2 separate regions of the Homo sapiens genome follow, and region 2 is linked to region 1. Evidence: fine-mapped expression QTL. A gene starts in region 1. The other region holds a variant in brackets. All regions are shown on one strand. Distances are between the middles of the regions. Region 1 holds the start of TM4SF1-AS1 (TM4SF1 antisense RNA 1). Region 2 overlaps TM4SF1-AS1 (TM4SF1 antisense RNA 1).

Evidence for each region. PIP is the estimated chance that this variant, and not a neighbour inherited with it, causes the effect.
Region 2: its variant is the best candidate, but not a certain one, in a credible set for the expression of TM4SF1-AS1 in subcutaneous fat (GTEx, PIP 0.67).

What each region holds. Positions count from the first base shown.
Region 1 is chr3:149,376,015-149,380,406 of GRCh38, reverse strand. TM4SF1-AS1 (TM4SF1 antisense RNA 1) reads right to left here and starts at 2,629. Exons shown (of 2, transcript NR_109810.1): 1 at 2,092-2,629. It overlaps TM4SF1 (transmembrane 4 L six family member 1), which reads left to right and starts at 2,758. Exons shown (of 5, transcript NM_014220.3): 1 at 2,758-3,036. The coding sequence starts at 2,860.
Region 2 is chr3:149,384,992-149,389,383 of GRCh38, reverse strand. TM4SF1-AS1 (TM4SF1 antisense RNA 1) reads right to left here. Exons shown (of 2, transcript NR_109810.1): 2 at 2,801-3,012. Among named protein-coding and RNA genes, the nearest start is that of TM4SF1-AS1, 9.4 kb to the right of the region's middle. RefSeq lists an enhancer at 1,417-2,616. The variant C/G (reference allele first, on the strand shown) is at 2,225.

The DNA.
Region 1 (4,392 bases):
GCTGACTCCCCCACCTCCCTCCCGGACGGGGCGGCTGGTCGGGCGGGGGGCTGACCCCCAAACCTCCCTCCCAGACGGGGCGGCTGGCCGGGCAGAGGGCCCCTCACTTCCCAGTAGGGCGGCCGGGAGAGCCCCCTCACTCCCGGCAGGGCGCTGCGGGGCGGGGGGCTGCTCCCCCACCTCCCTCCGCACGGGGCGGCTGGTCGGGCGGGGGGCTGTCCCCCCACCTCCCTCCGAGACGGGGCGGCTGGCCGGGCGGGGGGCTGACCCCCCACCTCCCTCCTGGACGGGGTGGCTGGCCGGGCAGAGGGGCTCCTCACTTCCCAGTATAAAGGAAAGAAGTTTAATTGACTCACAGTTCTGCATGGTTGGGGAAGCCTTGGGAAACTTTCCATTATAGAGGAAGGTGAAGGAGAAGCAAGACACCTTCTTTTTGTTTTGTTCTTTTTTTGAAACTGAGTCTCGCTCTGTCACCCAGGCTGGAGTGTAGTGGTGCTATCTCGGCTCACTGCAAACTCCGCCTGCCGGGTTCACACCATTCTCCTGCCTCAGCCTCCCCAGTAGCTGGGATTACAGGTGCTCGCCACCACGCCCAGCTAATTTTTGCATTTTTAGTAGAGACAGGGTTTCACCATGTTGGCCAGGATGGTCTCGATCTCCTGACCTTGTGATCCACCCGCCTCGGCCTCCCAAAGTGCTGGGATTACAGGCGTGAGCCACTGCGCCTGGCCGCAAGACACCTTCTTTACAAGGCAACAGGAAAGACAATCATCAAGAGAAGGGGGAAGAGCTCCGTATAAAACTGTCAGATCTCATGAGAACTCACTCACTATCACAAGAACAGCATGGGGGAAACTGCTGCCATGATTCAGTTCCCTCCCCCCAGTCTCTCACTTGACACGTGAGGATTATGGGGATTACAATTCAAGATGAGATTTGGGTGGGGACACAAAGCCTAACCATATCAGTAGTTTAAGCATCACTTTCCCCCATTTTGGCCCCAGGTGGGATAGATCAGCAGACAGGAGGGTTGCAATGATTATGCTTCAACAAAGGATGCCGTCATTCACCCATAGGCTCTGTCACCAGTGGAATCCTGTCTCTAAGCCATCGGGCCAAACACACGTTCCCTGTTGTTGGACACATAGTGGTGACCCAATGACACTCTTATGAGGATTTGCCTGCCTCCGCCTGAGCAGGTGGGTGGTTCCACGCTTCCCAACTCCACTGATTTATTTCCTCAGGCCATCCTGGATTCTGGCTTCACCCCTGTTAGTGTGCTGAGGCCACACTTCTTGGGCCCTCCTCCGGTCCCATGCCACATCACTAACCACAGCTGGTCTCCTCAAATTTGGTATGTGTCCCGCCCTCTAGTTCCGGGCCAAATCCTTCAGACTCTAGATTCGTGAACCTCATTCACCTTCTTCTTCTAAGCTAATGCCTCCCTACCTTGGTCCTTTTCTATTTTCTGTACTCTCTATCTTGTCCTGGTGACAAGGCCCTCCAGGCCTGGCCCCACCCGGCCACCCTGTCCACCTCCCACCACCATCCACTGGCTGGTGCAATCTGCTGTTCAAGGCATAAATTTATTCAGTGCCCAGCCCCTCCTTCTGCAAGGTAACCACCTAGAAAGTTAGTCTAACACCCTTTCTCTGCCCTGTGTGGGGAGCCTGTGGAAGCTGGTCTCAGGATCTGGCTGGGTAAACCATCTGTTTACCTCTGTGTGGGTTCTGACACTCCTAGCCAGTTCTGTTTCTCTGAACCTTGTTTCTCCACTCTGCTTGCCAAGTCCCTTTGTCTTATTTTTTTCTCCCTCTCCCTCCTTCCTTCCCTCCCCCCATCCTTCCTTCCTTTTTTCCTTCCTTCCTTCCTCCCTCCCTCCCTTCCTCCCTTTTTCCCTCTCTCCTTCTCTCCCTCCTTCTCTTCTTTCCTTCCTCTCTTCCTTCCTCCTTTCCTCTTTCCTTCTCTCCCATTCTCTTCCTCCCCCTCTCTTCTTCCTCTTTTTATTTTTGTCCCATGCTTTAGGCCTTCCTTGGCCCTTCCTGGCATTGCTTTTCCTGACAGCAACACTCAATAATTTTTAAAAAGCACCTGAGCCCTTTGTGTTGACTGATGCCACCTCTGTTGTGGTGCAGATTTGTTTTAGAGGCAGATGTCCAGGGACGCTGAACACTGAAATCCATCCTGCAGAGCTTGCTGTAGGCAGAGTAAAGAAGTTTGCTCTGTAGTTTTCCCAACAGCCTTCTCAAATCCATGGGAGACGTCTCAGACACCTTGTATTTAATAGACAAGGAAATGAGCTCAGGAGATTTGCCCCAGGTTGTAAATTAAATCAGCACAAAGGTAGAAATGAACACAGAGCTCTCAGATTGGAAGCTGTCCAGACAGCTGCATGGAGCAGGGGCACAGCTCACTGTCTTTCAAAGCCTCAACCAGGGCTGTTGCATCTCGGACACTTGGCAGTTACTGGAAAGTCATGTTAGGCTTTCCTGTTGATTCTTTATCTTGTGGAGGAGTTGCACAGTCAATGCCTTGTTCAAGATTAATCATTTTCCCTGTTGCCTATGACTGAGGCTGTTTCTCACATCCTGCCCCTGGTTTTGCCTGTCCCAAGGATTTCGTCTGAAGGGCGGGACATTCCCCCTGCCTCTTCGCACCACAGCCAGAGCCTGCCATTAGGACCAATGAAAGCAAAGTACCTCATCCCCTCAGTGACTAAGAATCGCAGTATTTAAGAGGTAGCAGGAATGGGCTGAGAGTGGTGTTTGCTTTCTCCACCAGAAGGGCACACTTTCATCTAATTTGGGGTATCACTGAGCTGAAGACAAAGAGAAGGGGGAGAAAACCTAGCAGACCACCATGTGCTATGGGAAGTGTGCACGATGCATCGGACATTCTCTGGTGGGGCTCGCCCTCCTGTGCATCGCGGCTAATATTTTGCTTTACTTTCCCAATGGGGAAACAAAGTATGCCTCCGAAAACCACCTCAGCCGCTTCGTGTGGTTCTTTTCTGGCATCGTAGGAGGTGGCCTGCTGGTAAGTCATTCAGGATTATTACTGAATTCTCTCCTGTTTCCTAGATGTTTTCATTATGTATTTTCATGGAAAGTTTTTTGTAATGCATATTTCTAAATCAAGTGACTTTTTTGTTGCTGTTCATTCCTTTGAAAGCAGATTATACAAAAGCGAGATTGGTACAGTATAGCGTAGTAATTTTATGAGATGTTGTTTTACAAAATGCTCTTTCAACTAAAAGTGAACTGCCTTTTTGCTAAACTCTATAGGTAGGAAACAGATATTCGCTTTTAAATCAGATTTGAGAGACTATAGAGTTTCTACTAGAACGGGCAGTCATTTAACATTTGCTCTGGGGAGCCGGAAGGGGTTGGCTGGTTCTCTGCCTAAATCAACAGTTTTGAATCCAAATTCTCTGCTGTTTATTTTCAGCCATCTGTGATAGGGAAAAATAATGAATTGTGAGTGCATTGCTATTTTAAAAGAACTCTAAGCTTTCTCCTTTATGTAAGGCTGGGGTGTGGCGTCTAGGAAAAACCCTACAGTTAGCAGCAGGTCGGTGTCTGAAGCTAATAGTGGAATGTGTTATTTTTTCCAAGAATTGTTTTTGATTGAAGTGAGAGGAATTTCCCTGCCAACCTGGGAGCTGAAAGCATTAGCTTCAACCACAGCATGGAAAGAATGTGAGCAAACTTAAGTTTGCTACTTTAAAGTGCTGGGATTAAAAATTTTAAGGAGAAATTTTATGGAATGGTACCATACGTGATAAATTTTCTTAATCAAGTAAAAGATAGTAAAACATTTAAACCTAATACACTGATTATGGCATGGCAAATCTGCCCTAAATTATTTATTTAATGAGATTTTATTTAATTTTATTTTATTTAATGAGACGGGGTTTCGCCATGTTGCCCAGGCTGGTCTTGAACTCATGGGCCCAAGTGACCCTCCTACCTTGGCCTCCCAAAGTGCTGGGATTACAGGCATGAGCCACAGTGCCCGTCTGCCTCAAATTTAAGCATTATTATCATGTTAACATGATTATTTGTCTTAAACATAACATCACACTTAAGTTTCTTTCGATCTTGAACCTGAAGTATTTCATATTTACTATATTTTAAGAGCTTAATATTGTTAAGTTAAAACTATGCATTTGTATAATCAAGGAAGCAGTTAATATTTATTATATATAGCTTTCATGTCTCCCATTTACAAAAAAGTTTCAGTTATTCTATTAAAGATTTGTTGGTATATTCTGCATTTTACAAGTGGAAAAAATCAGATTTAAAGAAAGGGTTTAATATTTCCAAAACAGAGTTTGTTATCTGGGGTCGTGTGATAAACTCTTGTGGAATAAACACGTTTACAGTTTATTAT
Region 2 (4,392 bases), 9.0 kb before region 1:
ATCGCTTGTAGTAGACTAAGGGGTATGGTAAACCACCTCATAGGATGCAATGAGAACACAGCATCACCATGGCCAACTTTATCATGTCCCCGCCAAATCCCTGACTCCTAGTATTCACATCCTCATATAATCCCCTCCTCTTGAGTGTGGGTGGGACCTGTGACTTGCTTCTAATCAATAAGATAAGGCAAAGGTGATGGGATGTCACTCCTGTGATTGTGTTACATTATGTAAGGATCTGTCTTGCTGGTAGACTCACTCTAGAGTCTTGCTCTCCTGCTGACTTCGAAAAATCATGAGTCCTACAAATACTAGGAAATAAATTCTGCCAACAACCTGAGTAAGCTTCAAAGTGAATCCTTTCCCAGTAGAGCTGGGGACAGAGACCAACACCCCTCTCAGCCAGGAGCATGTCTCTAATATGTAAACTAACCAGACCAGATCCTTATCTCTTCTATTTGGCTATACACACAAGAGGTAACCCTTCTCTGCTTTAGTCATTCCAAGGCCAGGTACCAGGCAACTAGGGGACACCTCTATGGCTTAGAGCCTATGGAAAGTATTCAAACCTAAACAGTTCATCTTGCCCTGCTTTTCACATGACCATGGGCCTGGATCTCCTCTCACTCCTGCCCCTCTGCCTCCTGGCCACCCCAGAGCTTTCCCCCAAGGCCCTTTGTGGTGTCCTGTGCCTCTTGTCTTTAGGATCTGTGAGTACAGTAAACTGTGTTTTCCTGAGCCTCCTTATATGTCCTCTTGTGACCTCACCTGAATGATCATCTCATGAAAGAACACAGAACACCAGCACAAAATATTCCATAATCATCTCATATTGTTGTTTCAGCCCTGATATCAGCCACCACTTCTCCGAAGTCCAAAGTGCCTTCATTCCTTTCATTGGAGAACCATATTTAGAAACCAATATCTAGGCACTACGTGTATTTTACCTATAATGGTATTAACACTCGTGGTAATACTTGTTCTCTTCAGACCAGTTCCTCCAGGTTGGAGGCAACACCGTACAGTGATTAAGAGGCTCTGGATCTAGACTGCCTGAATTAAAATTCTGGCCACGCTGGACAATCTGTGAAGCCTTGGGAAAGGCACTTAAGCTCTTACAGTTTTATACCCTGTGTGATAGTGTTTACGATAGCACCTACCTCAGAAGGTTGCTGTGGAACGTAGTAAGATATGAGTGTGACGCTCTTAGACTCATGCCTGACATTCAGGGATTACTCAGTAAATATTTGTTGGGTGAATGATCCTTATGTTGATCAGAAGCTCTAACTGAAGAATGAAAATGAGGGGGAAATCTTGCTCCACGTCCTTTTCAGACAATAATTAACGTATTGATTTGTCAGAGATCTCATCCTCCTGTGAGACTATCTTCCTTTAAGACTTTAAGAATTCCCTGTAATAATCTTTTTAGTTGTCTTTAATGTATTGACAACCTAGAAGAAATCCCTGTAAAATGTCACATATGTGATCTAGAAGGAAAAAAAATGCTTTCCACTTACACTTGTTTATGTTCTTCCTTCTTCTTCATTAAAAAAATAGAAAAGAACTCACACAAGCCTGGTGCCAAACCTGGATGTGTCTCTGTGTCCAGGACTCTGATTCCTAAAAACATCGAGTCATTATAGAAGACATCAGGACCACTGAGAAGACAGTCAGGAAATCAGAGGGGGAGAAGGTCAAGAAGGACGAGGCCCTGCAATCCTTTTTATTCCCCTGGTGTCCTCAGGATGGTGAATAAGAACTCTAGGAACCTGCACCTGCAAAAGAAGATCCAGGGCAATGTAGAGATTCCACATCCTGAGCTTTCTTTGATGTCTTCTTGCCAGCTATCCCCAATTCCTGATTTAGTTCCTCTTAGGGACAGCTATTCTGAAGGGTCTCATCAGAGAAGCTTATTTGGTTTCTATTGGACAAGGAATACATGCATTATAAACATTCCAGATAATGTTTATGTTTCAAATTGGTTTTTCAGTTCCTTTGCAATTCTTGCTCAAGTTTTCCTCACCTTCTAAGTCTGAAAAAGTAATTTCCAAATCATGGTGAAGGCATTATTGAAAAATCAGGACCTTGTAGAATCTTACAGTCATTTGGCCAGGCTAACGGTTTAACCTGAAAGTGGAATGGATTTCCCATCCGGGTTCCCATAGTGAACAACTATGTTTTTGTAACATAACACAATGAAGGGAGTTGTCACTAGATGACTCAG[C/G]TAGTTAGAATCTCAACTCCCTTTCTGGGGAGGAAATCTGAAGCACGGTGTTTGTATTAGAGGCTAGGGTCATGCTTATTTGGACTTCAGTTCTCCCGCATCAAAGCCAGTCAGAGACTATGAACAGGTAGGGGGAAGGAAGGTCAACTGTCCACCTGGGCCAGAAGAGCAAGAAGTGTAGCCAAACCAAATCTGACATTTTTTTGGGTGTCTGTCTTTCTAACACATATGCTCACTCGTTCTGTCTCTCTCTCTCTCTCTCTCTCACACACACACACACACACACACGTTTCAACTCTCCACTGCTGTAAAGCTGTTCTTGGTAAAATTCCCTAGGGCAAAATCAACTGTAACTTGAGTTTTCAACTCACTTAGTATCAGTGGGAAATTTGCCATGTTGGACTTTGACAACCACAAAAACCAGTTTGACTGAGAGTGGCGAGGCCATGAGGTCTAGGTGGAGTATGAACTCACCAACTTGGAATGATTACTTGGAGAATGCTCACACTGCCTCTTATTTATGCTTCTGTCCAAGTCTTTGAGAGTGCTGAAGTCATAGAAATGACCAAACAAATATATAGTACGACACTTTTTAATTCAGAACTCAACCACAAAAAAAATGCTCCTCTGTCACCAGGGATCCCTGGAAAATGGTGTCTAAAAATCAGCTCTGAGCAAACCATCCTCAGTTCTTGTCCTTGTGGCATCTTCAACTCCCAACTGATGGAAATCTCACTGGTCTGAACTTCAAATGGTATGAAAGCAGGAGTGGAGAGTTTCACCCCAACCTTTCTGCAAAAAAGCAAGCATATTTTATATAAGGTCAAAAGGCCATGTGAGGCAGGAGAATAGAGACTGGAGGCAGGGAACCTAAGGCTTTTCACACTGACTTCCTAGAACTAAATTGAAAGGAAAACCCTAACTTTCCATGCCTCAGTAACAGAAGGACCAGAGGCTACTCCCTTTGACCTTTTCTGCGTGGCAGTTGGGAAGTTGTCTGTAAGCGACAAATCAGACTTATTGCTGGTAGAGACTTTGTTTGCAATTTAGTAACTTCACTCCAGACTCTGAATGGTCTGACTGTGGCTCTGATCAGACTGATTGTGGACGGAGTCTTCAGTTTGCATAGAAGTATAACTTTGTAACTTCACCCTACCCTCTGATTGGTTGCTTTTTGCAACCAATCAGATGTTTGCACAGGAGTGTGACCTTTGTAACTTCACTTCATCCTCTGGTTGGCTGCTTTCTGCAAGCAATCAGACTGATTGCGGGCTACCACTTCATTTACATGAGGTAAGCATGAAGTGGCCAATGAGAAACTTCCAGGGGTATTTGGACCCAAGAAGATTCTGTATTTGGGCCCTTGAGCTGGTGCTCGGGCCCACTTCCACACTGTGGAGTGTACTTTCATTTTCAATAAATCCCTGCTTTTGTTCTTTTGTTGCTCCATTCTTTGCTTTGCTGGGCGTTTTGTCCAATTCTTTGTTCAAAACGCCAAGAACCTGGACAACTTGCAATCATGACCAGTGACACAGGTAGGGAAATCCTTTTACAAGTTAGACCAGGGTAAAGGAAATGAAAATAGGCCCTATTATTTCTCTCCTCTACTGAATCTAGACAATTCTTTTAAAAACTTTTCATTGCACACATCTCTTGTTTGTTGATAGTTCTATTTTGCTACAGTAAAACCAAGTTTGTAGAACAGGAGCTGTAGCTTTAATTTTGAGACATCAGGTTAACCTTGAAATCATTCATCGAATTAAAGTAGAATCCAAGTGATTAATGTCTCAAAATTGTGTTATTTAGAAGTGCCAAAGAAACAGTCCCCGAATCTGATCAACATTGTAGTAAAATCAGCCCAGTGTGTGAAGGAAAGAGCATGGGTATGTGAGTCAGGGAGACTTGCGTAGGAGGAATCCAGGCCTAATTACTCGCCAGCCTTGTGACTTTGGCCTGCATGCTTAACCCAGATGAGCTTCAGTTTCCTCACCTGTAAACAGCTTTGCACAACGGAGCTGTAAAGTTAAATGACGGCATCAGAGTGACTTGCATGTGCCCACTCTCCTTCTGCTCCACGCTCCTCTTCCCCTGAATGCACAGAAACTGGATACGTATTACCCAGGAACCCTGAACAGTTTTTGTCATTCTCCCCAAAGGCAGCTGTGATC